Homo sapiens: one gene and its partners. The protein of the gene in region 3 interacts with the protein of the main gene of each other region in a pairwise test. Each region holds a gene or a part of one and is shown on either strand. Other genes may lie near its edges. The genes, in order: DZIP1L, CUTC, CEP76, CCDC92, ZNF653, RBM41 and TOB2.

Region 1 (3,500 bases), on a different chromosome or scaffold from region 3:
CATGTGAATTAGAAGAAAATAAGACTAACATAGCAATCCTGTGAGCTCATGGAAATTATTACTTGGACAAGTATCAAGCAGGTATTTTGTGCTTAAAAGCATTGTCATTTTGGCATGAAAATATGGTAAAAAAATGTATTGATGACCTGGGAAACTATAATATTTAGTTTAAACTTCTGGCCTTAAAATCTCTAAGGAAAGGACGGTTTTTATCTTGCATAGAAATCTCAGACAGAAGGGTATTTGTCCTGGTTGCCAATCTGCCTTTTATGCTCCAATTTAAACGTATATCCTTTTGCTCATTCAGTCAAATGTTCATTCATTCATTTGCCCACTCATTCATTTAGTACAGTACTTGCTGAGGTTGACTCTGTGCCAGGGCCTTCCACCTCACCTGGGAAATCAGCCAGGACCAGGTGATGTGATGGAGCCAAGCATGGGGGTGGTGGGAGCTCAGAGGAGGGAGGGGACAGGGACTTGGGGAGGATGAATGGAAAAACCCTCGGAATGCTGGCTTCCAAGAGAAAGCAAAGGTATCTTGCTCCTTCTAGGTGCTACGCCCCACCCACTCCCACACACCTTTGTTCCTGTAGTAAAAAAGCCAGGAGGGAGAGCCCCCTTCGCAGCCTTCCCTTTCCCTGGCCCTGGGGTTCTGCCTTCTCTGGAGATGTTACTGAGTTGTGAGATGAGCGCTGTGTTTTTGTGGCATTTTGTAGACCTTTCCTTCCAGCTCTGCACCTTTATTCTTTTCCTGGGTCCCACAAGTGCTGTCTTAATGCTCACCTCCCATTTCTGCTTGGACCCTGCCTCTTCTGTGGCCTGGGCAAGGCTGTGGGAAGTAGCGGTGAGGGCCCAAGATTAGGGCAGACAGACAACCTGGGTTTGTATTCACCACTTTCTTCCGTGGAGCTGAGGGCAAGCCTCTGTAGGGAAAATGATAGCCTCTGAAGATGCTCGGGGGCCAAGTGGTTGTATGTAAAGTGCTTTTCTTAGTATCTGGTACACAGTCATGGGAAGCTATTGTTATTTTCCCCCAGCAGGCTTGTCTTTGTCTTCCCCTTCTCTTCAGTTCACTCTTTCCTGGAAGCTCCACTTCTGAGTAGACACATTCACTGAGAGCAGTGCATAGCTGGCCCTTGAACAATGCAGGGGTCAGGGGCGCAAACCCCCCATGCAGTTGAAAATTTGCGTGTAACTTTTGACTGCCCCAAAACTTAACTACTCATAGCCTACTGTTGACCAGAAGTCTTACCGACAATATGGACTATTAACACACATTTTGTATGTTATATGAATTATAAGCTGTATTATTACAATAAAGTAAGCTAGAGAAAAGAACATGTTATTAAGAAAATCACAAGGAAGAGCAAATATGTTTACTATTCATTAAGGGGAAGTGGATCATCATAAAGGACTTCATCCTTGTTATCTTTGTGTTGAGTAGGCTGAAGAGGAGGAGGAAGAGGAGGGGTTGCTCTTGCTGTCTCACGGGTGGCAGAGTCGGAAGAAAATCCACGTATAAGTGGACCCATGGCTGTTCAACCCCACGTTGTTTCGGGGTCAACTGTATTTCAAACATTTTCTGATCTTGAATTACTGTAAGAAACTCATTTTACATTGTGACCCAATCCACACATGTCTGACTCCCTGTGATGCACTCTCTCTCTTCTCTTCCCATAAAAACTTGCTGATCCGGGACCGCTCTTGTGGCTATAGGTCTTGATGCAATTTGGAAAACAGAGGGGCTGTGTCCAATTGCCTGCCTTGGTACTGCCTTGCCCCAGACTGCATTTGGGAGGAGGTTTGAGTGGATCTTGATGGTTCATGCAGTCCTGCGGCGACCTCTGGTGGCAGTGGGGTCTTCCTGCAGGACTGCCTGCAGTGCAGCGGCTGTAGCGTGGGTTGGGGAGAGGGTAGCAGCCTTGGTGAAGTCCATCTAGGACTACTGAGCCCCTCTTCAGGCCCGCGGACTCCTGCTGGTCTTCAGTAATGACAACACGACCCTGGAGCACCCAGCTGCTCTCCTGGTCTCTGATGAAACTGTGGAACTGTGGTCCTAGCCTCGAATCTGGCCAGCAGAACACCTGATTTGGCAACAGTCATGAAATCTGCTGTGGTTATTACAGCACGGAGAGGGAGTAATTGTTCATTTCCAGGGTGTTGGAGCCACTTTCTCCCTCCTCTTAGGCTTGAGATCCAGCATGGGTGTACTCCAAAAATCATTCCTTTCTGTGTTTCCAGTCAAAAGCCAGCAGAGCACACTGGTCACCAGAGAGGCCCAGCCAAAGACCAGGACCCTGCAGGTGGCCTTGCCATCCACACCGGCAGAGCCACCCCCACCAACTCGTCAGAGCCATGGCAGCCATGGCTCCAGCCTGACCCAGGTGTCCGCCCCCGCTCCACGCCCCGGACTGCATGGACCCTCCAGCACCCCTCCTTCCTCGGGGCCCGGGATGAGGTGAGCCCCAGACTCTGCCCTCTCACCCCACCTGCAGTGGTGGCTCCTGGATTCAGGCAGTCCTGTTCTGGGCTCCCTCCAGGCTTCTGCAGATAGGAGGGGGGCAGACACATGTGAATAGAAGGTGCCTCAGGTGGGGTCCAGTCTGAGCTCTGGACTTGAGAACCTGTGCTCCCAGCCAAGACAAACCCACCCTCCCCTTACCCATGTCCTCCCCCAAACCCGTTCCCCCTCCAGAGGGGCTGGATCCTCAGATGGGCAGGGCTCTACTAAGGGAGATACTGGTGTGGCTGCTGCACTCCAGGGGTCTCCTGGCTGTCTTCTGGGCCTGAGGGAGGGAGCAGGGCTGGCCCTGAGCAAACCAAACCAGCTTGAAGCGTGGTGAAGTTTGGCTTTTGAAGTTTTCTTTCTGGCCCATGCATCCCTCATTTCTTCTCCTCCTCGTGGCAGCACGCCCCCGTTCAGTTCTGAAGAGGACTCAGAGGGAGACCGTGTGCAGCGTGTGTCTCTACAGCCCCCAAAAGTTCCTTCCAGGATGGTGCCCCGGCCCAAGGATGACTGGGACTGGTCTGACACAGAGACCTCGGAGGAGAATGCCCAGCCCCCTGGCCAGGGCTCAGGTGAGCTGGCACCTTTGGGTGAGTGGGCTGGGACCACCGGTGTAGCCCTTCTCCAGCCCAGATTTCTCAAGGCTCCAGAAACACCCTTTAGCTTCCTTTAGGCTTTCTTATTTGACATCTCTTTCTCTATTTGGCTTGGAAAGGATGGTCCTCCTTCGCCTCAGATATTTTTTTGTGGGATAGCAGAGATATCAGGAGAAAGCTAGAGTTTGAGCAAGGTTTAGTTTTACCCCTTGTTTTGTCATTAAATTGTTAACTGTGGGAGGTTGAAGGGAGCCATTCACCCCTTTTCTCCTCCATGTTCTTTCCAGTAGAGAGTAAACACTGTGGCCAGCTACGGGAGATCAAAGCCTCGCTCTAGTAGTGGTGACAGGGCCCAGGAATGCCTGAGGCATAGGCTTCCTGTTAGGGCTGGATTAGAG
Region 2 (3,500 bases), on a different chromosome or scaffold from region 3:
GGTCTGTGTTTAAACCCTGGCTTTGACCCTTACTAATAGTGACCATGGATACATTACCTAGCCATCCTAAACCTCAGCTTTGCTCTTCTGCAAAGTTAGGATAATAATAGCACCTACCTCCTAGAATAGTTGTGAGGGATTTCTTCAGGTTATAGCACTTAGTAATTGTTCTATATTATTAAATCTGACATTTAGTGACTGCTCTATATTATTAAATCACTTTGATAGCCTTAGATAAGCATATACTTCTAAATAATCTTGTATGGAAGGCGAAAAGAAATGGTAGAATTCATTTCTTTAAAAATATTATTTCTCTATGTTTTGGAAAGCCTTGATTTGGAAGAAACAGGCAAATATGACTTTTTTCCATTCTGAAGTGATTTCAGCTTTTTAGATAGTCAATGTTTTGTTTTATGGATGCTTTGTTCAGGCCATTTGAGAATATGAAGCATCCTTGTTCCATTTATTTCCCTAACAATTTTTAAATTATTTGAAATAGCCACTCCCCTCTTTCACTCTCTTGTTAACTTTATTTTTTGCTTTATTTATTCACTTGCTTTATTTTTTCTTTGTTATACTTATTGCTACCTGGAATTTTATTGTATAAATATCCCTGTGCATTGTCTCGTCTTTCTTGAATGTGTAAGCTCCATGAGAGCAGGAACTTTCTCTTACTCACCATGTCAGGGAGGAAAAACTTTTCTTCTATCCTCAGGGTTTGTTATTGGGGGCCTGCAAATTAAACTGACTAAAGACAGATTAGCAGGAGTAAAAAGAGATTTTATCACATAAGTACATATATATGTAAGTACATACAGAAGTTCACAAAGAAATATGACTTAGAATTGGGGGCTTATATACCATCTTAATAGGTGAAGGGGAAGGAGAAAATGGCACTTATTGGGGGGGAAAATGACTTTTTGGAAAGATAATTTTCTAGAGACAAATTTACTATGCTGGACATCTTACTTGTCCAAGATCCCAAAGAAATAGAGAAGATCTAGTAAAAATTAAACATTAATAGTAATTTTTAAAATTTAATATATTCTGACTTATGTTTCTATTCTCACTGCCTTATTATCCCATTCAAGAGAAAGATATTAAAATTCACTTGTTTTTTTTTTTCTTTTTTCAGGCAAAAGGCAGGATTGTGGTAATGCCAGGTATTTATTTATCTATCAATTCACTAGCATAACACTGAACTATAGTGGAGGAAGAGCAAAGGAGGCAGGAAAATGTGAGAGAGAGTATTAGTACATTACATATTAGTACATGATCTTTAAAGAGAAGAATATATAGTTTGATTAAAATGTTTAAAACTGGGAGATCTGTGCTAGAATTTAAAAGTTTAGATAAGAAGGAAAATATTGTAATAGGCATTAGCTCAAAGAGGAGCAAATAAGGAAGCAGATAGAGATTGAGGTTTCTCCATATTTGCTCTCCCATTATATAGAACTTTATGAATTCAGATGTTCATCTCTGGTGAGGCACATCAAATTTGATGCTAATCATATTTTGTTTAGGACAAATGTCCTAATAAACAGGGTTTAAGCAAAGGTTTAGGCAACATCCTTGGGTAAAATATAATACTGTCTCAGTTCCTGAAAATCTCTGATTGCCAAATTATTTCTTGTAACCAGAATTTAATCATATGATCCTGATGATAACCATAAGATCAGTTAAGTTCATAATGGCTAACTAGAAATGAACAGTTGGAGCAGTTTTTAAAGAATTAGATAATACAACATAGAAGAGTGAGACAAATGTAAAGACAATCTTAATTTTTTTAATTAAGTTTCTCAAACATATAAAAAAGTAGAAAATAGCATAATGAATACTCATATGCTCATTCCCTAGATTTAACATTTTGCCAAATTTGTCTCATCTTTTTTCTATCCTGAGGTATTTTATTAAAGTTAAATTGAAAGCATCATGGCATTTTATCTTTATTTATCTCTAAAAAGGGTGGGATGTTACCATAATGACAATTCCATTATCACATCTATCACAATAAACATTTAATACTCAACTTTCTCCAATTGTCCCCACAATGGTTTTTATAGCTGATATGTTCAAACTAGGATCCAGTCAAGGAACAAGCATTACATTTTTGGTTATCTTTTGTTTGTTTGTTTGTTTTTAGAGATGAGGTCTTGCTATATTGGCCAGGCTGGACTTGAACTCTTAGCCTCAAGCGATCCTCCTGCCTCAGCCACCCAAGTAGCTGGGACTACAGTTGCACGCTGCCATGCCCAGTTCTATTATCTTTTAAAATATCTTTAATATAGATGTTTTTCCTTTTATTTTTCTTGCTTTAAAAAAAAGTTACATTATTAAGTTTGGGCTGGGCCCAGTGGCTCACGCCTGTAATCCCAGCACTTTGGGAGTCTGAGGCAGCCAGATCACCTGAGGTCAAGAGTTCGAGACCAGCCTGGCCAACATGGTGAAATCCTGTCTCTACTAAAAATACAAAAATTAGCCGGCCATGGTGGCATGTGCCTGTAATCCCAGCTACTTGGGAGGCTGAGGCATGAGCATCACTTGAACCAAGGAGGCGGAGGTTGCAGTGTGCTGAGATTGCACCACTGCACTCCAGCCTGGGTGACACAGCAAGACTCCGTCTCAAAATAAAATAAAAGTTTGGATCACTTACCCTGTAAAATGTCCTACTTTCTGGATTTATCAGATTATTTCCTCATGATATTGTTTAGCTTGTTCCTCGTGCCTCTGTATATCCTATAAACTAATAGTTAAATCATGAGGTTTGAATAGACTCTGCTTAAATATTTTTGGTCAGAATACTTCATGGGTGATTCTGCATACTTACATCATATGACATCACATCAGAAGGTATTCAGTCTCTGGTCATCTCACTACTAGTGATGTCAAGACTGACCAGCGTTCAAAATAGTGACACCTAGATAAAGAGTAACTTTTAAAAAGAGGCCGTGAACCTGGGCAATATAGTAAGACACCATCTTTACCAAAACGTAAAAAAATTAGTTGGGCATGGTGGCGTGCTCCTGACGTCCCAGCTACTCTAGAGGCTGAGGTGGGAGGATTTCTTGAGCCCGAGGTCAAGGCTGCAGTGAGCTATGATCGCACCACTGCACTGCAGCCTGGGCAACAGAGTGAGACCCTGTGTCAAAAGAAAAAAAAAAAAAGGCCATATAAGGGGTATTGTCAGATATTTAGGAAGGCTTTGACCTATAACAAGCCCTTGAAACATAAGCAGAGAGAAAGTATATATTATCTGTCAAATTGTGGTCCTTTTTGGTTAATCAAGGAATGTTAAAGAGACTCTGAGTGTGATGCTTTTCCATTTAGCACTAAATATATATAGTTTTGACAAGTAATACTTAGACAATTGTTGACATTAAGAGTACCTTTGTTTAATATGCAATTGTTATCAGCTGTGTGCAAGGCATTACTTGGGATGCAAAGCTACACAAGAAACTACGTTCTCAAGAAGCTGACTCAGGTCAAAAGATGTTACATAC
Region 3 (3,500 bases):
CACTGCACTCCAGCCTGGGTGTCAGAACTAGACCCTATCTCAAAAGAGAGGAAAAAAAAAAGAAATTTCTTCATTCGGACACTCAACTCAAATAGTTATTTTTGCTTTCGCGTGTAGTCTTCCTACACTTAAATACGAAATTGTAACCATAGTGTTTAATATCTTGGTAATTTTTTTCACAGAACACAGTATCAGATATTTTCTTTTCTTTTTTTCTTTTTTTTTTTAGAGACAGAGTCTCACTCTGTTGTCCAGGCTGGAGTGCAGTGGCACGATCTCAGCTCACTGCAATCTCTGCCTCCCAGGTTCAAGCGATTCTCCTGCCTCAGCCTCCTGAGTAGCTGGGATTACAGGCACACACCACCATACCCAGCTAATATTTTCTATTTTTTTATAGGTCTTTATAACTTTTTAAAATTGAAAGTAATATAACCAAAGAAAATCTGGAAAAAGAGTGGAAAATTATATATAACCTCCCCAGTAATAACCATTGTTGGCATTTTGTTGTTGTTCTTGCCAGTCATTTTTCTTATGTATGTATTTTCTTGAAATTATCACATATAGATACTATCAGTCATTGGTTGAGTGTTTTCCATTTATTTGCATTTCTTGCTGTATGACTTGTTTGCTTGTTTGTTCATGTACTTCAGCTATTAATCTATTAAAATATTCCAGGCTGGGCACAGGAGCTCATGCCTGTAATCCCAACACTTTGGGAGGCTGAGGCAGGAGGATCACTTGAGCCCAGGAGTTCAAGAGCAGCCTGGGTAACACAGTAAGACCCCTGTTTATACAAAAAAAATTTTAAAATTAGCTAGGTGTCATGGTGCACACCTTTAGTCCCAGCTACTTGGGAGGCTGAGATGGGGAAATCACTTAAGCCCAGGAGGTCAAGGCTGCTATGAATCATGTCACCAGCCTGGGTGACAGAGGAAGACCCTGTCTCAAAAAAAAAAAAAAAAAAAAATGTTCTACTTTTCTTTCTGTGTTGTGTGAGTTCTTTATAAACATTTTTTTTTTTTTTTGGAAACAGAGTCTTACTCTGTTGCTGAGGCTGGAATGCAGTGGCGCGATTGTAGCTCACTGCAACCTCCGCCTCCCAAGTTCACGTGATTCTCTTGCCTCGCCTCCTGAGTAGCTGGGACTAATGGTGTGTGCTACCACACCCGGCTAATTTTTGTATTTTTAGTAGAGACAGAGTTTCCTTATGTTGGCCAGGCTGGTCTTGAACTCCTGACGTCATGTGATCCACCCGCCTTGGCCTCCCAAAGTGTTGGGATTACAGGCGTGAGCCACTGTGCCCAGCCAATAAATTTTTATTATAATTTAGTATTTAAGTATGTAATGAGGAAATAATATGGAAGAATGAATACTTCATTTTAATTTATCTTCCAGGGTGACTGTGAAGATCACGCTAACCTTCTGTGCAGCCTTCTTCTTGGATATGGATTAGAAGCCTTTGTTTGTGTTGGGACCAAGGCAAAAGGAGTACCTCATGCATGGGTTATGACTTGTGGAACTGATGGGGCCATCACTTTTTGGGAGAGTTTAACAGGACACAGGTTAGTTTACTAAGTTTATAAGGATATTAAAATGAAGTTATAAGTTTTTTTTTTTTTTTTTTTTTGAGATGGAGTCTCGCTCTGTCGCCCAGGCTGGAGTGCACTGGCACAATCTCAGCTCACTGCAACCTCCACCTCCCAGGTTCAAGCCGATTCTCCTGTCTCAGCCTCCCAAGTAGCTGGGATTACAGGCATGTGCCACCGCACCTGGCTGATTTTTGTATTTTTAGTAGAGACAAGTTTTCACCATGTTAGCCAGGCTGGTCTCGAACTCCTGACCTTAGGTGATCCACCTACCTCAGCCTCCCAAAGTGCTGGGATTACAGGCGTGAGCCACTGTGTCCGGCTTAAGTTATAAGTATTTTAAATTATAAGGGTTTTTTGTCCATATTGATGGTACTTGAAGGTACGTGTTGATGATTTTAGTTAGAGCCTTTTCAGTGATTATGTAAAAAAGTACTTCAATTATGGCAGCCAAGTAAATGAACTCTAAGAAAACTTTTACCTCAAATATTCTTTACCAACATGATGTTGGTAAACAGTAAATTATGTTTACTAGTTTTGTATGATTAGCATATTTTTTTTTCAGTTTTCTCTTTTTTTTTTTTTGCAGTGTCTCATTCTGTTGCTCAGGCTGGAGTGCAGTGGCACAGTCACAGCCCACTGCAGCCTCCCCCTCCTGGGTTCTGGTGGTCCTCCTACCTCAGCCTCTTGCGTAGCTGGGACTGCAGGTGTGCACAGCCATGCCTAGCTAATTTTTTTGTAGGGATGAGCTTTTGCTGTGTTGTCTAGGCTGGTCTTGAACTCCTGGGCTCAAGCAGTCTACCTGCCACGGCCTTCCAAAGTGCTGAGATTATAGGCATGAGCCACCACACCTGGCTGGCATATGTTTTTTTCTGATGATCATACCTAAGTCTGAAAATAAGTTCAAGTTGTAAATGATGATTTCTTTTTAAAATTTGATGTGGTTACCATCTCCACGTTGGCAAATCCACTGGACACATTTTTTAAAGTACTTTAGCCTGTCATTAGATTTTGAAACAGCTGAGTACTTCTGTTGTAGGACTTCTTCCTTAGTTCAGCTAAGAGCTGAGTCCTTGTCACATGGCCACGAAAAATTAGGCTCGCAGGCAATTTGAAGGGGGAGAAAAATGGAATTTATTGAACAAAAAGGAAAAACACTGGGAAACGGACGCTCCACAAAGCCAGAGTGCCTGCTAGTGTGCTTCGTGCCTGCTAGTGTGCTTCCTGCCTGCTAGTGTGCTTCCTGCCTCGCAGATTGAATTCCAGCTTCCACTCAGGAAGAGGAGGGGCCAAGCTCCTCCCCACTGCAAATTGCTCGAACTTCTGTGGCTTCTCCCCAGTGTGCACTCCTCCCAGTGCACAGGCTGGTTGGAGTTTCTCTGGGGACCCCTTTCCACCTGGCTGTCTCACTTCTTTCTTCATGGAACATTCTCTTTCCTTAGCTTCTTTTTTATCATTGTCTTTCAATATTTATTATTCCTCTCTGGCTGTTCTTAGTTTTTCCTTCATCTTGTCTTTAAATGTGTGTGTTCTAGAGGCCCAGCCCTGGGCCCTCTTTTCATTCCCGAGTCCTCTTTCTCCCTGGTTGATAATCATGCCTAATAATGTTTTGGTTAGTTGTGCCTAAAAATGCATAACCAAATTATTTTAATTATGTTATCTGAGGCAAACTTTTTTTATTTTTATTTTTTTTTCTTGGAGATGGAGTTTCGCCCTTGTTGCTCAGGCTGGACGGCTCACTGCAGCCTCCGCCTCCCGGGTTCAAGCAATTCTCCTGGCTTAGCCTCCCGAGTAGCTGGGACTACAGGCACGTGCTCCCATGCCCAGCTAATTTTTGTATTTTTAGCAGAGACGGGGTTTCACCATGTTGGTCAGGTTAGTCTCGAACTCTTGACCTCAGGTGATCCCCCTGCC
Region 4 (3,927 bases), on a different chromosome or scaffold from region 3:
CTGCGCTGGGTGCGCGAGGGGTTCCTCATCACCTGAGCGGGATGCTCGCCTCCTCTGCCGGACGCAGGGCGCCCTGAAAAACACACAGCACCCCATGCAGCCGGCTCCTCCGCAGCCGCCCGGCTCCCCGGTCCCCTGGCGCGGCCATGACCGCCTCTCCCGGGACCCGCCTGGAAGGGCTCCAAGACGCGGCTCCACGGGCGACGAGGGCGGCAGCGCTCCCCCTTCCCTCGGCTCCAACAACAATGGAGCCTGGCTCGGGAGTCCGGCTCCCGAGGGGCCTCGCCCGGCCTCGCCCTGCCCGCTGCCCAGCCCTCGCTCGCACCGGCCGCCATCTGCGCCCCCCGGCCCCGCTCCCCCGCACTGCGGGCCCGCGGCCGACCGCCCGAGGCCCGAGGGGCGGCTTCTCAGCCCGGGACCCGCCAGGCTGCGCGGAGCCGCTCTGACCTTCCCCGCCATCCCGAGGCCCATCCTCCGGGATGGGTTGTTTTTCTTTTCTTTAAGCCACTCCACCTCCTTCCCACCCCCAGCCCGCTCCCTGGCCCCCGGCCCCCGCCTCCCTCCGGGAAAGAAAGAAAGACTGCAGCCCGGCCGCCGAGAACTCACTCCAAGTGAGGGGAGTCAGCGCCCCAGGCCGCGGGCGCCGCGCACCCACCTCCCTCTCCTCAGGGACACCTCACAGGTGCGCCTCCGAGCCGCGCGCGCGCGCGCTCCGCACACCCAGACGCCTCCGGGGGACAGCGCGCGTGCGCACGCACGAGGCCGGGGAAGCCCCGGGGGAGCGGGGGCCGCACGCATGCGCGGCCACCCGGCCCGCGCCCCCACCGCCCGCCTCCGCCCCCGCCCCCCAGCCCCGGCCCGGTCGGGCCCGGCCATCCCCCACCCCAGCGCCCGGCGCGCGCGCTCCCGCTCGCCTCCCTCGCTCCTCCCCGCGCCCCCCCCTCCCTCGGGCCGCGTTACCCAGGGCAACCGCAGTGCGGCCGCACCTGAGCTGTGCGCCTGCGTCCCGCGGGCCCGACCCTCCCTTCCCCTCGGCCTTCGCCCCTGCCCCGCCACAGCCGGGCGGAAGGGGGCGTAGCCCCGCCTCGCCAAGTGAATATCGGCCCGCCGCCCCCGCCCAGCCCGGCAGACACAGGCCCGCCGCCGCGCCGGCGCCTAGCCCGCCGGGTCAGCGCGGCCAGGCCTCGCCGCCGGCCCCGCTCCCAGGGTGCACCGCGGCTAGCGCTGGGGTGGGAGCGGGCGAGATGCGCCGGGCGGGCGGTGCCCACTGACCTCCCTCGGCGGCCCGGCCCGGGCAGCGCCCGAGCCCAGGCAGCCCCGCCCGCCGCGCCCCGCCCAGCCCATGGGCCACGGGCCCCCACCGCCGCCCGCCGGGAGGACCGAGCCTAAGAGGGCAGCCGCCTGAAGGAACGCGACGGCGGCGCCCGCAGGTGAGGCGGGGCCCGGGGTGTGTCGAGTCCGGCCCCGCTCACCTGGCAGCGCCGGCGGGGGCGGAGGGGCCGGGCAGGGGCGGAGGGGCCGGGCAGGGACGGGAGTTCGTGGCGAAGACTTTAAAAACCCTCCCCGCCGGGAGACGGGGGACGGGGTCCTCCTGCCCCACCTCCGGGGCTTGGGAGCCACGTTAGCTCCCCCAGGGGCAGGGGTGGCCCCGGGCGAAGGCAACTCGGGAGACGGCGGAGTCGGGGAAAGAGGGTCCCTGAGGCTCGGCGACCCCCGCGCCCGCCCCCGCGGGGTCTGCCGGCCCTTTCTGGGGAGGGGGCTCCCCGGCCCGGGCTCCAGTCCAGGGTGCGGACCGGCCGCGGCGCGCGCCCACCCCAGTGCCAAGGGGGAGGAGAGGCCGGTCCCGGGGCGCTCCTGTCTGCCCCGGGGTGGGATCGCAGGGCGAGGGATCCGCATTGCAGGTGCACCAGGAGCGCCCCGGGGCCTAGCCCGGCTTTGTCTGGGATGCTGTGGGGAGGAGGCCGTCTGAATCCACATCGCCTTTTTAAATGCTTGTTACCACCCGGGGAACCTTAGAGACCCTCCCTGACAAGTTGTATCGCCTCCCGTCCTGGTAGCCTTTCCGTAAGTACACTACCTTGCCAGCCCCTTCCTGAAGCTTTGATGCGGCTTTAGTTTACTCTGAGTAACGATTTGCCTGTGATTCGTGAAACGGAGCAGAATGCACAAACGCAGCAGAGCTCCAGGCTTGGCTACTGGGCTGCCGTCTGCTACGGCGAGTGAGTTTCTCTAACTTAGGTTTTCATGCTGACCTGTATTGTTTCATTTCAAGTTTTGGTATTTAGCAGTACGATCTAGTCCACTAAGGAAAATTAGGCTGCCAGAGAGAAAATATAACCGCGCTCTGTAGCTTAGGTTGCAGTAGTCGGTTTTATAACAAAATGCAAGCTACCACGCTGTAATACTTTAACATATTACGCAGTTCCAGAAACCTGTAAGAGTATTAAAACTAGGATTGCCATTTTAAAACTTTTACGTTTGAAATTTATTTAAAGAGCATTGGTATTGATAAAACGACTTTTCTTTTTTTTTTTTTTTGCTCATCAAGAATTCCCATGCATTTTCTCGCTATTGCATTGTAAGGAAAAAGATGCTAACGTTTAAAGTGGCTTTTACCTCCAAAGATGTTTTGAAATGTATGTAATTCTTTTGGCTAACTGTTCATCTTATGTGAAATATGCTTGGAAGAAGGCTTTAAAACTCGTGATTATATATACGGGTATGCGTACATATCCATACACACCACTGAAAAATCTTAAAATAGTTTTGTTACTCCTCTGCGTATTATAATTACTCAGTAAATTTAGTTTAGGTACATTTAAGATCTAAAGTACAGGACAATTATTTGTGTGAGATTTTTACTGTGACACATTTTAAATACATCGGTCTAACAAATAGGGTTTTTTTGAAATTAGATATTTTTATTAACTCTTTAAAAAACGAATCATTCATCTTGGGTTTATAACTCTTTCATCTGCCATGTTGGATAAATTGCAAAATTGGATAAATTGATCTCAACTTATCCAATTATCTTTGGATAAATTGATCTCAACATAATTACCTAATTGGTAGGATGCCTTTGCAACGATACTAACGTTAATAAAATGTTGATGCTTTTAAAAAATACTTATGTTAAAAAAGCATTTTCTCGTATTTCTGGCAAGAAAAGTCATGGAACTTTTTTCCTTCTATCTGGAACAAGGTCAGCCATAAATAGTTTCTAATACATAGTGGGCACACATTTGGTAACTAAGATTAATTATATCTACTGAATTTACTGAATTCCATGTCCTTCAAGGGCAGTGACTAGGTGACTTTGTATCTTCACACACCAATGTTGCAGTAAATGTTTGAGTCAGATTGAAGTTTCATCCCGGCTAGGTAGGTGCTAACTTAATGACACCAGTTTCCACATCTTCAGCTTTGATGTTTCAACCTGCAGAAGGATTTGGGCACGGAAGTGGCTGTGTCCTAATTGTCTTCAAATATTTGAAGGTCTGTCATGCAGCAAGGGATTTCATTTATTTTGAGTAATTATTGAGTACAGAAAAACAGATTTCACTTCTATATGAAGGCAAAAGTTGTTTATGGTGAGAACTAGCGGTGGAAAGAAGGGGCTGCTCCTTCCCTAGGGGCTTTTGGGATCAGCTGGTTCCCCACTTGGCGTGAATGGCTATTAGGAGGTATCACAGAGGTATAGGAGGGTCTTTCTGAGAGGGACTCCTGGGTATTCCGATGGCAACTATATTCGAGGACTTCTGTACTTCCCTTTTAGCACTGTGGCTTTTGTTTTTTGTTTTCTTATGCTGGCTTCTAGAGTTGTGGACGTAGCAACATCCGCAGACACCTACATGAACCCTAGGAAGATTTTTTAGTAGATTAAAGACCCACCTGCTATCGAAGATGATTCTTAGTCGTGCTTTGCAT
Region 5 (3,500 bases), on a different chromosome or scaffold from region 3:
CTGGTCTCGAACTCCTGACCTCAAGAGGTCTGCCTGCCTCGGCCTCCCAAAGTGCTGGGATTACAGGTGTGAGCCACTGCGCCCGGCGGGGTTGCAGATTTAAATGTAAAGATGAAACCATACCCGGGCCTGGGCCTGGCCTTTTATTTCCTTATTTATTTGTTTATTTATTTTTGAGATGCAGTCTTGCTATATTGCCCAGGCTGGTCTTGAACTCCTGGACTCAAGAGATCCTCCCACCTCAGCCTCCAGAGTAGCTGGGACTACAAGTCACACACAGCCTGGTTTGTATTTTAGAAGAAACTGTCTCTAGGATGTGTGTGGCTTGAAGAATGGATGGGGTACACATTGTGATACAAGGTTGGCCAAGAGTTAACAATTGTTAAAGCTGATGATGAGTCCAAGGAGGTTCATGACTCTTGTCAACAATTAAAATAAAAAAAAGGAAGACCAGGCATGGTAGCTCACGCCTGTAATCCCAGCACTTTGGGAGGCCAAGGCAGGTGGATCTCTTGAGGTCAGGAATTTGAGACCAGCCTGACCAATAGGCCAAAACCCTGTCTCTACTAAAAATGCAAAAATTAGCCGGGCATGGTGGCGCACGCCTGTAGTCGCAGCTGCTTGGGAGGCTGAGGCAGGAGAATCACTGGAACCCGGGAGGTGGAGGTTGCAGTGAGCCGAGATCGCGCCACTGTACTCCAGCCTGGGCAATAGAGCAAGACTGTCTCAAAAAGTAAAATAAAAATAGGCCAGGCGCGATGGCTCACGCCTATAATCCCAGCACTTTGGGAGGCCAAGGTGAGCAAATCACGAAGTAAGGAGTTCGAGACCAGCCTGGCCAGCATATTGAAACCCCGTCTCTACTAAAAATACAAAAATTAGCTGGGCGTGGTGGCACACGCCTATAGTCCCAGCTACGCAGGAGGCTGAGGCAGGAGAATCACTTGAACCCAGGAGGCAGAGTTTGCAGTGAGCCAAGATCGTGCCACCGCACTCCAGCCTGGGCAACAGAGCGAGGCTCTATCTCAAAAGAAAAAAAAAAGTTACTAAAGGGATACTTTTAGACAGAAAACACAGGCCTGAGTGTGGCGGTTGCTCTCCTTGGTAAGGGAGGTGAGGGAGAAGCAGCAGCCCGGTGCCAGTGGAGCACTGGGCAGTGGCAGCACCCAGGAGGCCAAAGGAAGTGTCTGCCATGTCCAGTGCTGTTGGGCCGAGTGAAGCCGTCACTGGTGACTGTGATGGGAGAGTGTGTGACGTGATGGAGCAAAGCTCTGACTGGAGGAGTTCCAGTGAGATGGAGGAGAGGACATGGAGACAGCGAGTGTAGACAACTGTGACAAAACGGGGAAATGAAGAAGGAGGCTGGGTGCTAGTGGCTCACACCTGTAATCCCAGCACTTTGGGAGGCTGAAGCAGAAGGATCTCTTGAGCCCAGGAGTTTGAGACCAGCTTGGGCAACATGGCGAAACTCGATCTCTACAAAAAGTACAAAAGTTAGCCGGGTGTGGTGGTGCATGCCTGTGGTCCCAGCTACTCAGGAGGCTGAGGCAAGAGGATCGGTTGAGCCCTGGAGGTCGAAGCTTCAGTGAGCTGTGATGGCGCCACTGCACTCCAGCTGGGGCAACACCACGAGAGCCTGTCTCAAAAAGAAAAAAAAAAAAAAAGATATGGGGAAGGGGCTGGTGGGGAAGGTGGGTATCAAAATGATTTTAACCCAAGATGGGAGAAATCATGGCATATTTAGATGCTGGTGGGAATGACTGAAGACTGAAAGGAAATGGCGGGAAACAGCCAAGCCAGGGCCTGAGTAGCCCCGGAGCTGTGGTCCTTGATGCCAGTGGCCTCTGCTGGGAGTCACAGAGAAGTGGCAGAAGTTGGAGAAGTGGACAGGAGAGGGAAGGCAGTTTGAGGGAGAAAGCCCTGTGTGGGGGTTGGAAAGTGGCGCTCACCAGGTTACATATGACCTTGTTTGGTCCCCATGGTGACCCTGTGTCAGAAGCACTACTACTATTTCCACTTCACAGACGGAGACTGAGGCTCAGAGGGGACAAGACCTGCTTGAGGTCACACAGGCAGTTGAGAGCAGAGCTGAGTCTTGAACTTGGGTCTGGCTGATACCCAAGACTGTCCCCACTGCAATGTGACACTCCCAGCCTCCAGCGGTGAGTGGATGGAGGTGGCTGTGGACATCAGGACTTGGGTTTGGGGCAGGGCATGGTGGCTTACACTTGTAATCCCAGCACTTTGGGAGGCTGAGGCAGGCAGATCACTTGAGGTCAGGAGTTCGAGACCAGTCTGGCCAACATAGCGAAATCCTGTCTCTACTAAAAATAGAAAAATTAGCTGGGCTGATGGCAGGCATCTATAATCCCAGCTACTCAGGAGGCTGAGGCAGAAGAATCGCTTGAACCCAGGAGGCAGAGGTTGCAGTGAACTGAGATAGTGCTACTCCACTCCAACCTGGGTGACAGAGCCAGACTTGGGTCTTGGGTTGGGTGAAGGTCTCTACAGCCAGTGTGGTGCTTTGCAGGGGAGGGTGGAGCCATGGGAAGGGATAGAGTCACATGGAATGGGACCTGGAGTAGCAGAGCCAGAGGCAGGGGCAGAGCCTGGGGCAGGAAAGATGGAAGATCCCCAAGGTGCAGTCCTGGGAACCAGACGGGTGTGGGACTGAGAATTGTTACAGGGCTGGGCAGGAGTCAGACGGGGTGGACAGTTTTGCTGATAAGAGACACTAGACTGGCTGTCAGGATGTTTGTGGCAAGAGCAGGTCTGGGCCACAGCAGGGAGGCCAGGGGGCCCAGGCTCCACGATGATACTGATAATCATAACGATCATTGTACCATTTGCTTATTGATGATTAAGTGACAGGGCTGTACCATGACGAAGATCGTTTTTTGTTTGTTTTTGTTTGTTTCTTTGTTTTTGAGACACGGTTTTACTCTGTTGCCCAGGTTGGAGTGCAGTGGTGTGATCATAGCTCACTGCAGCCTTGACCTCCCCAGGCTCAGGTGATCCTCCCACCTTAACCTCCTGAGTAGCTGGGACTACAGGTGCATGCCACCCCGCCTGGGTAATTTCTGTATTTTTTGTGGAGATGGGGTTTCACTGTGTTTCCCAGGCTGGTCTCCAACTTCTGGCCTCAAGCGATGCACCCGTCTTAACCTCCTAACGTGCTGAGATTACAGGAATGAGCCACGGAGCCTGGCCTTTTTTTTTTTTTTTTTTAATTGTATAAATAGAGGTGGGATCTTGCTATGTTGCCCAGGCTGGTCTTGAACCCCTGGCTTCAAGCAGTCCTCCTGCCTCAGCCTCCCAAAGTGCTAGAATTACAGGTGTGAGACACCACACCCAGACAGTACCCACTGTCTTGCTGGCTGTGGGCCAAGACCACTCTCAGCCTCTCAAGTAGCTGGGACTACAGGCTTGAGCCACTGTGCCCTACAAGATATGTTCCCGTTTGATTAACTCACAGTCACCTAACCAAGGCTTGACATCCA
Region 6 (3,500 bases), on a different chromosome or scaffold from region 3:
ACATTGCTCTGAATAACAGGATTTCAATATTTTTATGGCTGAATAGTATTCCACTGTGTATATATACCACATCGTTGGGCACCTAGGTTAACTTCATATCTTGGCTGTTGTGAATAGTGCTGCAATAAATATGAGAATGCCATTGTCTTTTCAATATACTGATTTCCTTTCCTTTGGATAAATTCTCAGTAGTGGGATTGCTGGATCGTATGGTAGTTCTATTTGTAGTTTGTTGAGGAACCTCCGTACTGTTTCCCATAGTGGCTGTAAAAGTTTACAGTCCCACCAACAGTCTGTAATAATTTGCTTTTCTCCACATCCTCACCAGCATTTGTTAACTTTTGTCTTTCCAGTAGTAGCCATCCTAACTGGAATGAGATGATGCCTCATTGTGGTTTTGATTTGCATTTTCCTGATGATTAGTGATGTTGAGTATTTTTTCATATATTTGTTGGCAATTTGTATGTCTTCTTTAGAGAAATAGCTGTTTAGATCATTTGCCCATTTTTAAATCAGGTTGTTTGTTTTGATGCTGTTAAGATGTTGAATTCCTTGTATAGTCTGGATATTAATCCCCTGTTGGGTGAGTAGTTTGCAAATATTTTCTCCCATTCTGTAGTTCGTCTTTTCACTCTGTTGTTTCCTTTGATGTGCAGAAGATTTTAGTTTAATATAATCCCGTTTGTTTATTTTTGCTTTCGTTGCCTGTGCTTTTGAGGTCTTATTCATGAAATCTTTTCCCAGACCAGTGTCCTGAAATGTTTCCCCTATGTTTTTTCCTAGTAGTTTTTTAGTTTCCGGTCTTACGTTTAGGTCTTTGATCTGTTTTGAGTTGATTTTTGTATAGGATGAGAGATGGGGGTCTGGTTTCATTCTTCATGCATATAGGTATCCAGTTTTCTCAGCACCACTTATTGACGAGACTGTCTTTTCCCAACTGATGTTCTTGGTGTCTTTATTAAAATATTAGTTGGCTGTAGATACATGGGTCAGTTTCTGAGTTCCCTATTCTGTTCCACAGTTACATGTGTCTCTTTTTATGTCAGTACCATGCTGTTTTGGTTACTACAGTTTTGTAGTACATTTTGAAGTCTGGTAGTGCAGTTCCTCCAGCTTTGTTATTTTTGTTCAGGATTGCTGTGGCTTCAGAGTCTTTTGTGGTTTCATAAAAATTTTAAGATTTTTTTTCTTTTTCTATGAAGAGTGTCATTGGTATTTTGATAGGGATTGCATTAATTCTGTAGGTTGCTTTGGATAGTATGGTCATTTTAACAATGTTCTTTCAGTCCATGAGCATGGAATATCTTTCTGTTTGTATCCTCTAAACTTTTCTTTCATCAGTGTTTTGTAGTTTTTCTTGTAGAGGCCTTTTACCTCCTTGGTTAATTTATTTCTAGGTATTTTATTTTGCTTTTTGTAGCTATTGTAAATGAGATTGCTTTCTTGATTTCTTTTTCAGCTAGTTTGCTGTTCGTGTGTAGAAACGCTACTGATTTTTGTGTGTTGATTTTGTATCCTGCAACTGTATGGAATTTGTGTATCTGTTCTAAGGGCTTTTTGGTAGACTCTTTCAGGTTTTTTTTTAGGTTTTTCTCTATATAAGATCATGTTGTCTGCAAACAGGGACAATTTGACTTCCTCCTTTTTGCTTTGGATGCCTTTTATGTCTTTCCTTTGTCTAATTGCTCTGGCTAAGACTTTCACTACTGTGTTGAATAAGAGTGGTGAGAGTGAGCATTGTTGTCTTTTGCCAGTTCTTAGAGGAAAAGCTTTCAGCTTTTCCCCATTCTACTGATGTCTAATTTTTTGTTGTTGTTGAGTCTTTAGCGTTTTCTACATGGATGATCATTTCAACTGTGAACAGAGATAATTTTACTTCTTTCTTTCTGATTTGGATGCATTTTATTTCTGTTTCTTGCCTATTTGCTATGGCTAGAACTTCCAGTACTATGTTGAATAGAAGTGAGAGTAGGTATCCATGCCTTGTTCCTGATCTTAGAGGAAAAGCTTTCAGTTTTTTAATACTGAATATTATAGCTGTGGACTTTACATATATGGCCTTTATTATGTTGAGGTAAATTCCTTCTATTAGTAGTTGAGTGTCTTCATCATGAAACAGTGTTGAATTTTGTCAAATGCTTTGTCTGCAACTGTTGAGATAATCATGTAATTTTTATATTTTGTTCTGTTAATGTGTTGTATTACATTGATCAATTTTTGTATGTTGAATCATCCTTGCATCCCAGGGATAAATCTCCCTTAGTCAAGGTGTATGAGCTTTTTAATGTGCTGTTGAATTTGGTTTGGTAATATTTTGTTGAGGATTTTTACATCTGTTTATTAAGGATATTGGTCTGTATTTTTCTTATAATGTTTTTGTCTAGGTTGGTCTCAGGGTAATCCTGGCCTCATAGAATAGCTAGCATATAGTTGGATTTTGTTTATCCATTCAGGTACTCTGTCTCTTGGGGAGTTTATTAATATTTAATGTAATTATTGCTAGCAAAGGACTTACTATTGCCATTTGTTAATTGTTTTCTGTCTCTGTTGTAGCTCTTTTGTCTCTCCCTCTCTGCCGTCTTCCTTTGTGGTTCATTGGGTTTTTTTTTTTTTTTGTAGTGATATACTTTGATATCTTTCCCATTTTTCTCTGTTTATCTTTTATAGGTATAGGGCATGGTAAAACAATCTGTTTTAAGCTGATAACATCTTACGTTCAATCACATATAAGAGCTCATTTTTGTTCTGTTGAATTTTTTTTTTTTTTTGAGACAGGGTCTCACTCTGTTGCCCAGGCTGGAGTGTGGTGGTGTAGTGTGATCATAGTTCACTACAGCCTCAAACTCCTGAGCTCCAGTAATCCTCCTGCCTCAGCCTCCCAAATAGCTGGGACTTGTAAAATTGGCCAGTTGTGGTGGTGCATGCTGTTTGCTCACAAGTAGCACATGCCACCCTGTCTCTTTTGCAGAGACAGGGTCTCACTGTGTTGCCCAGACTGATCTCAAACTCCTGGACTCAAGCGATCCTCTCATCTCAGCCTCCCAAAGCACTGGGATTACAGGAGTGAGCCACCGCACCTACCCTCCCGTGCCGCCTAATAGGTAGAATAATTTCTCTTATTTTCCTGAGGATATTAGTTATGGTTTGTTGAAGTTTTTTCCTATTTCCTTTCTTTTCTTTATGTTTGTTGTGTTCTCTCTTTCACATTAGAGGAGTTCCTAAGATGCCTGATAATCCATGCCCAACTTTATAAGTAGGAACTAAAAAGCAGATTGGAATCTCTGAGCACACAAATGGCACTTGTTGACTTTGAGCTTCACTTTAAAGTGGTCTGGCTGGGTCATTTGTTAGAGAAATTCCTCATCCCAAGTCAGTATTTTTATATCTTTCCTCCTAGGACTTACCAGTTTTCCCAGAGAAGACTTCCAAAATCTTTCTTACGAGGGTACTACCAGCGTTCTAGGAGCCAAATGGCAGAAAAGGACTGGGAGGACCTCAAC
Region 7 (3,808 bases), on a different chromosome or scaffold from region 3:
CTGCCACCAAATTTGGCTCCACTAAGATGAAGAAGGGGGGCGGGGCAGCAAGTGGTGGGGGTGTAGCCAGCAGTGGGGCGGGTGGCCAGCAGCCACCACAGCAGCCTCGCATGGCCCGCTCACCCACCAACAGCCTGCTGAAGCACAAGAGCCTCTCTCTGTCTATGCATTCACTGAACTTCATCACGGCCAACCCGGCCCCTCAGTCCCAGCTCTCACCCAATGCCAAGGAGTTCGTGTACAACGGTGGTGGCTCACCCAGCCTCTTCTTTGATGCGGCCGATGGCCAGGGCAGCGGCACCCCAGGCCCGTTTGGAGGCAGTGGGGCTGGCACCTGCAACAGCAGCAGCTTTGACATGGCCCAGGTATTTGGAGGTGGTGCCAACAGCCTCTTCCTGGAGAAGACACCCTTTGTGGAAGGCCTCAGCTACAACCTGAACACCATGCAGTATCCCAGCCAGCAGTTCCAGCCCGTGGTGCTGGCCAACTGACCATCTACCTGCCCGTGGGGCCAGGAGCACCCAAGACCACAGAAAAGAGAAAGGAAAGGCCAAAAAAAAGAGGAAAAGAAAAATGTACAAAAAGATTTTCGATCTTCTCACTCTTACTTCTAGAAAAAAGATCCAGCCCAGGCACGGAATGGGAGGGCCCTGCAAAGCACCCAAGTGTGTTTCACTCACCCCTTACCGCTCGCCCACCGGCCTGTGATTTATTTGGTTGGTTTGGGTTTTATATTTCTTTTTCTTTTTTTTTTTTCTTACATGTAGTTTTCTATATAACATCTTTAATGAGTGGCTTCCTGTGCTAAGAATGGTCCAGATGTGAACTGCTGCTCCCTGCTCCTCCCTTCCTCCTTCACACTCCTAGTTTAGGATTGATGTGTCCAAGCTCATAGGGAAGAAAGAGCTGCAGCTGGAGCCTGACCCTCCCTGGAACAGGGAGAGGCTGGCCCGTGTCACTGCCTCTGTCACCCAGCTATCCTCGCACTCAAAGCCATCCAACCTCAGCAGGCCTTCTCGGGCCCTGCCACCTGAATAGGTCTGACCCCAGTCCCCACTCCCTTTCAGGCTGGGCCACAGGGAGTTGCTGGCTGGCCACTTGACACCCTCCCCCTGGAGCTGATGTCTGTGACTACAGGGAGATTAGCACTTCGTCTAGTGAAACTCCTTTCATCTCTGTCCTATGGCCCCACCCCACCATTCCCTCTAGGCCCAGACCATCATCATGGCCCTGGCCATTGATGTGTATGGGCTTTCTTTCCCTCATGCAGCCCCTTCTTCCCCAGGCTGGATGTTGTGGGTAGGGAGGGGTGTGTGTGTGTGTATTTGGTTTGCTGTCCTTTTTTAAAGGATTCCAAGCCATGTGAAACTTCCCTTCTGGATGTGATTCTGGGTCGCAAGTCCTTATTTATATGTGAGGCTGGGGAATGGGCTGGGGGTATTGGCAGTCCTTTTGCAGGGCAGTGTGTGTGGTGGGGTGACACCGCTGTGGCTTAGCCCAAGACACTCCCAGAGGAAAACACTGCAGAAGGAACTGGTTTGCAGACTGTGGAAGGATCTGCAGTTTTGTTTTTGACCAAAAAAATAATAATAAGTTAGCTCTGAAGGGCAGAGGGAATACCCAAGCCCCTGATGCCTATGAGAAGTCCCTGGACTTCAACCCTCCTGTTGTTTGGCCTTAGCCCAGAGGGAGCTGCTCACCTGAGCACCCTTGGGGGTGGGCAGAGAGGCAGGGTGGGATTTTAGAGTTAGTGTCTGTGCGGGGGCAGCCCTGAGCCTGGAGTTGAGACTTTGGGGTCTCTTAGTTTGGAGGTGTTGAGTGCATTTGTGCCCCTGCCTGGTTGAGAGCTTCTTGGTACCTCTTGCCACCCCTTCTCACTGCCCTGACCCAACCCCACTGGACCTTGATGCTGCGAGGAGTGGTGTCCTGACGGACTCAGCACTCCCGCCTGATGTATTGGATCATAGGAGAGCACTTGCTCTCCTGCCTCTGCCAGGAGAGGGCTTGTTCCTCCAACTCTAGGAGGCCAGGCAAGCATGGACAGGAGCCAAGGGAGCAGGGTCATTAACTTTTTCTTCTTTGCAAAGTGGGCACTTGGCATCAGGGTCCCAATCACCAGAAAGCACCAAAGCCCCTGGCACCCCACCCACTCCATCCTACCCAGGGACCCCAAGTAGGCAACTGTTATGGCAGTGGGTCCAGCCCAGGCCAGCACTGCCAGCCTCCTCTCCCTGCAGTAGGCACCAGCTCTACCTCCCCCGGCAGGCAATGTCCTGGCTTCTCAGCCCAGCACCATCTGTTCCCCTAGACTTCTCAGGGGCCAGCCCAGTCTGGGCCACCCTTTGTTTCCCTCATCCTCGGCTCCCACACAGGTGACAGACCCAGCAGATAGCTTCTCTCTGGGAAAGGTTGGATGCTGCCTTACATCCCCTTCTAGCCCTCCTCCCATCCACACACACAGGCACCCACCCACACCAGGTCGGCTTGTTTCTCACATGTAGGGAGAGAGGGGAGACCAACCCCTTTGTGTCTTTTGAAATACGAAGAAAAATGTGTGTTCAGGAGCATGACTCCAGTGCTGCGCTCTTGGGCCCAGTTCAGTCTGTCTTGTCTCAAATCTAGGCATTTTTGCTTCAATTTTATTTTTTTTAAGAATACAAAAACAGAAATCTGCACTAATTTACCTGGTTTCGTAGGAAAACTTTTTTTTATTTTTTACATTTTTTGGTGTCCGTTTGTATTGAATAATTTGCTACATTTGTAAAATGTAAGAGGTATATAATATATGTATATTTCTAACGTAAAAAACATAATTTTTTTCTTTTCAAGATTTTTTCTTAAAAAGATGAGAGAAACATATTTTTTCAGGAAAAACAAACTTTAAAAAAAAAAGAGGAGAAATAAAACCTTTTCTCCCCTTTCCCCATCCTCTATCTATCCCTCTTTCCCAGGAACAAATCAAAAGGTGGATTATCTTCTGAAGAATGGAAACTGTTAGTCCAGAATGATGTGTTTTTCTCAATGCAGTGAGTTATAGATTCTCTAGTTTTCTCCCTAGGGATGGGAAGGGGGCATTGAGGCAAGCCTGGAGAGGAGCCCGGGGAGCAGGGTCATGAACTTTTTTCTTTAGTGAAGGAGGAATACAATCAAGGGTTTTGTATTCAGAATGTTGTGCAATATTTTGGAATGGGACATTGGTGTGTTTAGAGATTTTAGTTTAAAAACAAAACAAAAAGATTGATCAAATCTGTACAGTTTCTATTGTTCCAGATTTTTTTAAGTTTGTATTAAAAGCATGATACATAATAGCCTTCTGCCTGCTCCTGGCTTGCTTGGTTTCTGGGGTCCCTTTTGGGATGGAGAGAATGGGAGTGGCCCAGCCCTTACAGACTCCAAGAAACGATTGGTCCTCCTTACAGTGACAGCCTCGGATGGACATAACTGTCCTGGTGCCCCTTCTTGACCACCTATCCATCCCATCAACACAGGATACATCATTGTGCTTGCTACCGCAGATGCTTTTCTACACTGGAAACAGGTTCCACAAAGTTAGAAACCGCTCCAGTTCCCTTAGCCAGTTGGTGGTGGCAGCAGAGCCTGGAGAACGGGGTACTTCATGGCTCTTTAGGAATTGTCTATTCCTGGGGGGAGGAGAGCGGGGACAGCCTCCAGCCTACTCTAGATCTAGTACTTGATCCTTAGTACTAGATCCTTAGATGTGGGCAAGGATGAGAACAGCTTGCCTAAGCCAGGTTCCATCCAAAAGCCCGGTGCTTGGATTCTCAACCCTTTTCTTGGGCTGGACAAT

What was found.
Region 1: the proteins of CEP76 (region 3) and DZIP1L interact in binary tests that used the Homo sapiens proteins (3 or more experiments, as listed by UniProt).
Region 2: the proteins of CEP76 (region 3) and CUTC interact in binary tests that used the Homo sapiens proteins (3 or more experiments, as listed by UniProt).
Region 4: the proteins of CEP76 (region 3) and CCDC92 interact in binary tests that used the Homo sapiens proteins (3 or more experiments, as listed by UniProt).
Region 5: the proteins of CEP76 (region 3) and ZNF653 interact in binary tests that used the Homo sapiens proteins (3 or more experiments, as listed by UniProt).
Region 6: the proteins of CEP76 (region 3) and RBM41 interact in binary tests that used the Homo sapiens proteins (3 or more experiments, as listed by UniProt).
Region 7: the proteins of CEP76 (region 3) and TOB2 interact in binary tests that used the Homo sapiens proteins (3 or more experiments, as listed by UniProt).

Annotation. Positions count from the first base shown.
Region 1 is NC_000003.12:138,067,109-138,070,608, reverse strand, and holds part of DZIP1L (cilium assembly protein DZIP1L), read left to right. Parts: intron 1-12; coding exon of another isoform or gene 13-44; exon of another isoform or gene 45-1,444; coding exon of another isoform or gene 1,445-1,449; exon of another isoform or gene 1,450-2,235; intron 2,236-2,241; coding exon 2,242-2,458; intron 2,459-2,908; coding exon 2,909-3,078; intron 3,079-3,500. UniProt on the Homo sapiens protein: Involved in primary cilium formation. Probably acts as a transition zone protein required for localization of PKD1/PC1 and PKD2/PC2 to the ciliary membrane.
Region 2 is NC_000010.11:99,749,234-99,752,733, forward strand, and holds part of CUTC (copper homeostasis protein cutC homolog), read left to right. Parts: intron 1-1,135; coding exon 1,136-1,163; intron 1,164-3,500. UniProt on the Homo sapiens protein: May play a role in copper homeostasis. Can bind one Cu(1+) per subunit.
Region 3 is NC_000018.10:12,678,724-12,682,223, reverse strand, and holds part of CEP76 (centrosomal protein of 76 kDa), read left to right. Parts: intron 1-1,395; coding exon 1,396-1,562; intron 1,563-3,500. UniProt on the Homo sapiens protein: Centrosomal protein involved in regulation of centriole duplication. Required to limit centriole duplication to once per cell cycle by preventing centriole reduplication.
Region 4 is NC_000012.12:123,970,032-123,973,958, reverse strand, and holds the start of CCDC92 (coiled-coil domain-containing protein 92), read left to right. Parts: upstream 1-1,127; 5' UTR 1,128-1,430; exon of another isoform or gene 1,431-2,219; intron 2,220-2,539; exon of another isoform or gene 2,540-3,927.
Region 5 is NC_000019.10:11,499,340-11,502,839, reverse strand, and holds part of ZNF653 (zinc finger protein 653), read left to right. Parts: intron 1-3,500. UniProt on the Homo sapiens protein: Transcriptional repressor. May repress NR5A1, PPARG, NR1H3, NR4A2, ESR1 and NR3C1 transcriptional activity.
Region 6 is NC_000023.11:107,070,323-107,073,822, reverse strand, and holds part of RBM41 (RNA-binding protein 41), read left to right. Parts: intron 1-3,397; coding exon of another isoform or gene 3,398-3,500. UniProt on the Homo sapiens protein: May bind RNA.
Region 7 is NC_000022.11:41,432,994-41,436,801, reverse strand, and holds the end of TOB2 (protein Tob2), read left to right. Parts: coding exon 1-491; 3' UTR 492-3,308; downstream 3,309-3,808. UniProt on the Homo sapiens protein: Anti-proliferative protein inhibits cell cycle progression from the G0/G1 to S phases.